3 separate regions of the Homo sapiens genome follow, and regions 2 and 3 are each linked to region 1. The links come from fine-mapping of genetic effects on gene expression. A gene starts in region 1. Each other region holds a variant in brackets. All regions are shown on one strand. Distances are from middle to middle. Region 1 holds the start of KRT10 (keratin 10). Region 2 overlaps KRT20 (keratin 20). Region 3 has its middle 21 kb from the start of KRT10.

Region 1 (2,821 bases):
TAAAAACCACTGATGTATTCGTTGTGATAGTATTATACAACGATCACTTAACTTACTTCAGCCTGAAGTCATCAGCTGCCAGCCTGGCATTGTCGATCTGAAGCAGGATGTTGGCATTATCAGTTGTTAGGTTGAGAATCTGGAGGGAGAGGCACAGTTATTTGAGAAGAGGTCAGATGCAGATATGGCTTTTGTAGTGACATAGATGCACTCTGCACTTTTATGTTGTTCTCTTACAAAATCTTGGGAAAATTTTTTATTTTAAATATGAAATATTGCAGGCTTACCCATATACTTAACTTTGAATTATTTGTTCTCTTGGAATTTCTCCAGTCTTGTATTTCTGTACACGAATTATTCCTTTCTGAAAACTAACTGGAATTATATAGATGTATTCCTGTAAGTGTGCCCTCCTCTTTTAGACTATGTGATTTCCATGTATTTCAGCCATGCTTTGGCTGACTCACACCTGCATTTGTTTAACTCATGATAAATACTAATAAATAAATACACTCTGAACTGGTACACAATAGGTACAATTCAGAAATTCCTTAGAGGCAAGCAGTGTCCCATTTTCATACTGGAAAATTTATTTTTCTTGCCATGTTGGTACTGAATATGGCTTGTTATCAGTCTGAATAACATTTTGTTCTGATTCATATCATGATTTTTTTTTTCAGTTTCTACATTTGTAAATAGCCTAGCATATTTTAACTGTGGACTCATTGTATGCTCATTAAAACCTCAAAAGTGCTTAGTAAATCTCCCATCCTCTTAAGACAAGTAGCACACTTGCTGGATGAAGATTGCCATGACCATAGTTTCACAGATGTTTATCTTTGATGAGACTGGGTTATTTTTGAAGGAAGAAAGTAACATGGGTAAGCATAGTGAACAGCCACATTGTGCTTAATTTAAGATTCATCTGTCTGGATTACATGGACAAGATACTTAAAGCTGGATTTAAAAATACCTCTTACCTGATTTTTAAGGTCATCGATGGTTTTGTAGTATTTGCTGTAGTCACGAGGCTCCCCCTGATGTGAGTTGCCATGCTTTTCATACCACTCCTTGATTTTGCCTTCCAGCTCATAGTTTGATTCTTCCAGAGCCCGAACTTTGTCCAAGTAGGAAGCCAGGCGGTCATTCAGATTCTGCATGGTTACTTTTTCATTTCCAGAGAGAAGGCCACCATCTCCTCCAAATCCACCACCAAAGCCTCCTCCAAAGCCGCCTCCACCAAAGCCGCCTCCACCAAAGCTGCCCCCACCAAAGCTGCCACCTCCGAAACTGCCCCCTCCAAAGATGCCTCCATAACTCCCACCAAAGCTGCTACTTCCATAGCTTCCACGAAAGCTACCTCCACCAAAACCTCCTAATCCTCCATAGCCACCTGATGAGCCCCCAAAGCAGCCCCCACCAGAGCTCCCACGGCTAAAAGAGCCACCACTGAACCCCCCTGAGCTAAATCCTCCACCAAGGGAGCCTTTGCTGCTAGAAATTCTTAGGGATGACACTCCTCCTCCTCCTCCACATCCTCCTCCTCCTCCTCCTCCTCCACTGCGGGAGGAAGAGTAGTGCTTGCTTGAGCTGTATCGAACAGACATGGTGATGCTGTTTAGCCCAGGGAGTGCCTGCTACCAAGGACAGTGACAAGCCTTTATATACTGAGAGGGTGTGTCCACATGTGTTAGAGTTTGCTTACTTACATTGTTTTCTTTTTGCCAACTTAGCATCTTTGGCTTATGATTGCATAAATTATCTTCAGTAATAACCAATCCTAATATGTACAATTTTGAATTTGCCCTAAGAATAAACAGGAGGTTTGCTATGTTGAAATTGAAAATGGGTGGAGTTCAGATGAGCATGTTTTATTATGCTTTTCACCTGTTGAAGAACATTGAGCAACCGTTAAGATCCATTTTTCTCAGCACTAATTCAGGTTGCATAGAATGTTTGCAAAGTTTAGAAAAAAAAGTTTCAGCTACAAAATTATAGTTAAAATAAGATTTTTCAAATTCATGTTTTAAACAGTTTTAATTGGAGCAACAAATAGCATAAAGTCTGGCAGGATCATGCTACAATAAGGTTCTTGTAGACAACTGTAGGGAATCAAAAAGAAAAAGTTTCTAAAAATTTAACTAGCATCAATAGTTGCCACACATAAAACATTAAAGCCATAAAACCACAATTTAGGAGATTGTGTTTGTAGGAGATCTTTTAATTTATTTGGCAAATGAGAGTATATTGATATTTTGCCTAAGAAAGTGGAAGTAATGATTTTAGAATTTTCTAATTAATGATGGCATTATTTTTAACATTAAAAAATCTGAAATCATAAAGTTATCCTGGATTATTTTGCACTTTTAAATTCATCATAGTTAAGGTTTCTGTGAAGACCATAATAATGCAGAAAATCTGCATTATTTTCTTAGCATGAAATCCGAAGAACTAACTTGTAGTACTTTACACTAAGTTCTGATTGAGTAAAAAGGGAAAATTTGGATATGTTATGATTGCAAGTAAAAATTTGCTTGCAAAAATGTAAATCTATATTAGAGAATGATACTTGCACCAAATATTATGAACTAGACTGTGCACATGTGTTCCCAAGCTAGGTTCAGTTTCTCAATAAAAACAACACATTTTCTTGGATATACTGTGTACAGAATTTGGTATAACAGTTTGTCTAGTGAAGTAAATTGGGATTTTGGTACATTGTATAAGATTATATCTACCCATAGGCTATGACATTGCTGTTGTTTGGATGTATATATTCATACATGTTTTACAATTATGTAGTGCTGTTTGTGATACTGTG
Region 2 (2,658 bases), 61 kb after region 1:
TAGCTTCTAACCTCCTTTAGGCTTCAGGATTCTGGACATTGAACCGTGCTTCCTTTATCAACAATGATATGGAAAGCTGAGTATCTGGAAGGACTACTAAAGGAATTCTTTTTCAGAAACTTTTGCCACGTATTAGGGAACCTACTTCAGTCTGAAGTCCTCAGCAGCCAGTTTAGCATTATCAATTTGCAGGACACACCGAGCATTTTGCAGTTGAGCATCCTTAATCTGGAAAATACATGAGAAAGAATGACATTTTCTTTTTTATTTATTTATTTATTTATTTATTTATTTATTTATTGAGACAGAATCTTGCTCTGTTGCCCAGACTGGAGTGCAATGGTACGATCTCGGCTCACTGTAACCTCTGCCTCCCAGGTTCAAGCAATTATCCTGCCTCAGCCTCCCGAGTAGCTGGGGTTACAGGCATCCGCCACCATGCCCGGCTAATTTTTGCATTTTTAGTAGAGACAGCATTTTGCCATGTTGGCCAGGCTGGTCTTGAAGTTCTGACCTCAGGTGATCTGCCTGCCTCGGCCTCCCAAAGTGCTGGGATTACAGGCGTGAGCCACCGTGCCCGGCCAAGAATGACATTTTCAACTGGATAGGAGTTTACAAGGATTTAGTTTATCCCCAGCTACAGTGACTATTATGTCAAAAATGATGTTCATTTCAAGTATTTCTACATGAAAATATATAGAAAAAATAATGACATAGTTATTTAACATAACAGAGTCATAAAATGCAACTCTAGATGCCCCAGGGTTTGGTCTACTTTCTTGTGATTTTACAGAAGGATAATTTAACTCAACTTGAGTCATCACACCTTATTGAGTGCCTTGCCTTTGATGTTTCTACTTAGGACATTTCTTTTAGCCCCTGTGGTCTGGTGAACTCCCATTCCTCCCTCATGTCTCAGGTTCGACAACATTGCTTCATAGGAGCCTTCACAGATGCTCTCAAAACTGAACTGGATGATCTGCCTGTGCTCTCATTATCCCTCTGTGTGCTGGTCCCTCTGTCCATCCCTGTATCCTCATAAATCATATTGTGTCCACCATAATATTCCTCAGTCCCCAGCATGGTGCCCAGCACCTAGTTAGTGTTCATTCAGTATTGGCTGAATGAAAGAACATGATGCATGAAAGAACGAAATGCATGATGGAGGCATATAGATGAAAAATCTACTTGCAGAAGATGTTACAATGACATTTCTCTTTCAATGGACCCAGTTTTGGAGAGGGCTGCTTCCTATGGTTGGGACTGTCCAGCTCAATGGGACGGATGGCCTGTGCCTGTGTATTTCAGATGAACCAAACTAGAGTCAGAAACACGAGACAGGTGTGGTTCGAACATTTTTAGTGAGAGCTTGCGAAGGATGAACTTTATTCCGGAAGGGCTATTTAAATGCCATTGCTTCACATGCC[C/T]ATAGTTTCTAAAATTCCAAAGTAACTTCCCATGGAGTCCGAATCAAATTGCCCTGATGTTTAGTACAACTCAAGAAAAACAGACTTGCTGGTAAGTAAATGCGCTTTGCTCTAAAGGAGTATGAATCTTAACACAAATTACAGTGAACACTTTTCTTAATTAGATAAGAACTTTAATTTGAAGCAAGTGCTCTGTGTCATATCTGAAATTTTCAATTAGGAGCAAAGTCTTCTGCTTTTATTCCATGAAACTGATAAAATACAGAGCTCCACCCTTTTTTTGATGACATAGGAGGAGGTTGTGATATGATTGTAATAAACATGAATTGGGGGCAATAGAACATTTTATTACTGTAGAAGTAGTTTCTGAACTGCTTGATGCTGATGGTCATGTTATTAAACAGGGCACTTAAAAATCCAGGCATCATTAAGACCCATATTCCTGCCACACTGTTTCCACCCAGAATCACTTTGCTATTTAAATCTGCAGTACAGTATTCTAATAGTCATATTATAACATTTACTTAAATAAAAGGAGAAAAGTCTTTGAATTTACTGGGGTTTCAAAACTTGATAAGGACTAGGTGAAAAACTAAGAGAGATTTATCACGTAATTAATTTTTAGCTCTTTTCAGAAAGATTGTTCACTATACATTTAGCCCTGATGTGATAAGCTGTGACAAAGATTCATTTTATTCCGGAGGATAAAATGTTCATATTTTGTATGTAATTGTGTTAAACATTAAAAATAGCATGATTTAAGGTCATCCTGTTGTACAGTCAGGTACTCCAGCACTAAAGGTAGATGAAAGAATTTTTATAGATGTAACATTTTAGCCTAATTTGCTTTACAAAGTCCATTTGGACCTACCTAACATAGATAACCTCTTGATTTATCTTGAAGCTAAACACAGAGTAGGAAACACAAGCATCATCTCTCACCTGACTTCGCAGCTCTTCAATTTGTCTGTAATATGCACTGTAGTCGCGACCAGCCCTCGGGGCGTTGGTTTCGTACCACTGCTTGATTTGCACTTCAAGTTTGGAGTTGGACTGCTCCAGGGTCCGCACCTTTTCTAGGTAGCTCGCTAGACGGTCATTTAGGTTCTGCATGGCCATTTTCTCATTGCCAACAAACAGGTCCCCGCCGCCTGTGAGATCGCTCCCATAGTTCACCGTGTGTCTGGAGTTGGAGATGCGGATGCCCCGGCCTCCAGCACCCCCATAAACG
Region 3 (2,821 bases), 21 kb after region 1:
GTCCCTCCTTTCCTTATCCCTCTTGGGAAAGGATATGGAGATTTCTATCATAGGAAGAGAAAAAATGGCTGGAAAAGGACATAGTCACATTCTTTCTGTACCCATAATACTCTGTGTGTGCCTTTATTATTCTACTTATCACATTTATCTTGGGGAAGTTTCACAAATCACACACAACATAACACTCCCACCCAGAGATTCAGAATTCATTCCCTCCCCTGCCAAGCACCACTGCAAATAAATTGTTACTATTGGGTATATTTTGTGTCCTTGAGCTGCTTTAGGAAAAAAAAAAATTAAGAACCCCTGATAAGCAATTTGGAGCTTCAGATTGCTTTTGAGAGGGGCAGTGACTCAAGAAAAGTATTGCTTCAGGAAGATTAGCCTGTTGGAAGTATACTAATTGGTTTGGGAGAGATGGAGCAAGGGAATCGGTTAGGAGAATGTTAGTGTCTACATATGTCATCATGGACACAGAAAAAATAAGCTGATTGAAAGAATAATAATTATTATTTGATTACTGATTGGATATTGAGGTGGTCAAGACCAAGAAAGTGTCAGAATAGGAAAGCCAGGAGAAAGAGTGGTTTAGAAGTACAGATACTGAATCGGAAATGATGGTTGTACATTCTCATGGTCAGCCTTTTGCTTCAATTTCTTTAACATGTATTGGTGCAGGCTTCACAGAGCAGAAAACACTCCTGCATGCATATTGTTAGCTGTTCAGAAGCTTTCTGGACTTTCTTCCAATCCTTCTCTCTGTTCACTGCTGCCTGTTCACTGCTGCAGGTAAGGTAGGAGGAAAGAGAATATCTCAGGTGGGATCTGGTAATAAAATAAGAGGAGATCTAGTTATCTGTGGCAGCCTTATCTATTGGAACTACAGAAACAAGCTCACTTCTCTCCTGCTTGTCTCCTCATTAGATAAAAGGAAAGATTATGGGGGCAGTGGGTGGGAAGAGTAGTTAAGTTACAGGAGTTAACAGAGTTAAGTAACTATGATGATGAGCTCTTTCCCTGAAGAACCAAGCCTGTGTGCCAAGGTGGGGCCGCTTTTGCTCAGTGTGAGAGAGGGTGTTTCCCCCATCTCTGGGGAGGAGTAGAGGAACCAGTACCTGCTGAGGTTTCCGTCATTGTTTTGCTGCCCTCTTCCTCTCTGCCGCACCACTCTCCCACCCCCTGCCAGCTATCCTGTGTTCTGAAGTTGCTGCCTGGTACCCCAAAGCCACATTCCAGTTTAGTTTGTCCTCCTTTGACTTGCTCCATTTGTCTGTTTTCTCCTCTTTACATACTGAGACTTCTCAGCCTGGTGTGGGAATAGGTATTAGGAGGATAACCATCTGGTGAGTCTAATTCAGTCTAAGGTGTGACTTACTGACTGACTGCCAAAGGTGGGTAGGGTTGGAGAGGTATTCACTGAAGCTATTTACATTTTTTTAAAAAACACACCTTTGGGAGGCCAAGGTGGGCGGATCATGAGGTCAAGAGATCGAGACCATCCTGGCCAACATGGTGAAACCCCGTCTCTACTAAAAGTAGTCCCAGCTACTCGGGAGGCTGAGGCAGGAGAATCACTTGAACGCAGGAGGCGGAGGTTGCAGTGAGCTGAGATTGTGCTATTGCACTCCAACCTGGCAACAGAGTGAGACTCTGTCTCAAACACACATGTGCACACACACACACAC[A/ACT]CACACACACACCAAAAACAAAAAACACCTTTTATCTAAGTGGAATTTCAGGCACCGTGGTGGTAAAAATTTTGAAGAAAATATTTTTCTGTATTTTTCCAATTAATACAACTTGACTTTAAAATTAACTGTAGCAGGAAAAGCACTTTGTTGTCTCTAGGCCTCTTTTCCTCACCTTCTGGAGGGAAGGGACAGTATCTTGGCTCTGATTGTCCTATCTTTTGTACAGTTCACTGAATATATATCATATGCCATATATTTTACTGGGGTTCTGAGGATGCAAGGATAAGTAAGATGTGGTCTTTACCTTCAAGGAAGTCATATCTTTTGGGTCAAAGGGTAGGAGACAAGGCACAAATAATTACAAAATAGGATGAAGAGTTTGGAAATACAGATTTATCTAAAGTATATGAAGCACCAGTAAAAAGAAACCAGTTTCTGGAGGACTTAATGAGATGTCTTTTGAATGATGTCTTAAAGAATGACTTAGAATTCATTGTATGGGAAAAAAAAAATCTAGGCTGAGGGACCAGCAAGTATAAAGGAGACATAAACACACACGACGTATTTCAAGAACTGAGAAAAGTTTGGTTTAGCTGGGACATAAAGTTTATGTGAGTGAGTGCCAACAAATAAGTCTGGAAAATAGGTTTGTGCTACATAAGAAAAGACCTGTAATGCCATTTTAAGGAATTTGGACTTGATCCCTTAGTCATGGAGTGGACCGTTGAAAGCTGCTAAATAGGGGAGGAACATGACCTTAATTTTTTGAAAGATAACTTTGTTGACAGTGTACTAGATGGATTGGGGGGAAACTGGACAAAGGGAGATGAGATGGGAGAATTTGCAAGAGTCTGGGGAGGGGAAGAAACAATGAAAATTTCACAAAAGTGTCAGTGCAGTGATAAGAATGGGAAGATAGTCATAGATAAGGTGGCATTTGACTTGGCTGTTTGCCCGTTGATGATGGAGGGCATCTAAGATGACAAGACGTTTCTAGTTTTGAACTTCGGGGAATGCTATTGACTGATATGTGAATGCAAAGGGGGAGCAGTTTTTGTAGGAAAGATAACAAATTTAGGGAAAGGAAGATTGAGCCTGAGGTACCTATCAACATTCAGATGTAGATATTCCAT

The links. PIP is the estimated chance that this variant, and not a neighbour inherited with it, causes the effect.
Region 2: its variant is fine-mapped to the expression of KRT10 in whole blood (INTERVAL, PIP 0.96).
Region 3: its variant is fine-mapped to the expression of KRT10 in neutrophils (CEDAR, PIP 0.95).

The regions. Positions count from the first base shown.
Region 1 is chr17:40,820,979-40,823,799 of GRCh38, forward strand. KRT10 (keratin 10) reads right to left here and starts at 1,636. Exons shown (of 8, transcript NM_000421.5): 1 at 981-1,636; 2 at 57-139. The coding sequence starts at 1,607. All of the region lies in intron 1 of KRT10-AS1 (KRT10 antisense RNA 1), which reads left to right.
Region 2 is chr17:40,882,427-40,885,084 of GRCh38, forward strand. It overlaps KRT20 (keratin 20), which reads right to left. Exons shown (of 8, transcript NM_019010.3): 1 at 2,370-2,658; 2 at 146-228. The region is part of intron 1 of LOC105371777 (a long non-coding RNA gene); the gene reads left to right. Among named protein-coding and RNA genes, the nearest start is that of KRT20, 1.5 kb to the right of the region's middle. The variant C/T (reference allele first, on the strand shown) is at 1,428.
Region 3 is chr17:40,842,341-40,845,161 of GRCh38, forward strand. No RefSeq gene overlaps it. Among named protein-coding and RNA genes, the nearest start is that of KRT10, 21 kb to the left of the region's middle. The variant A/ACT (reference allele first, on the strand shown) is at 1,686.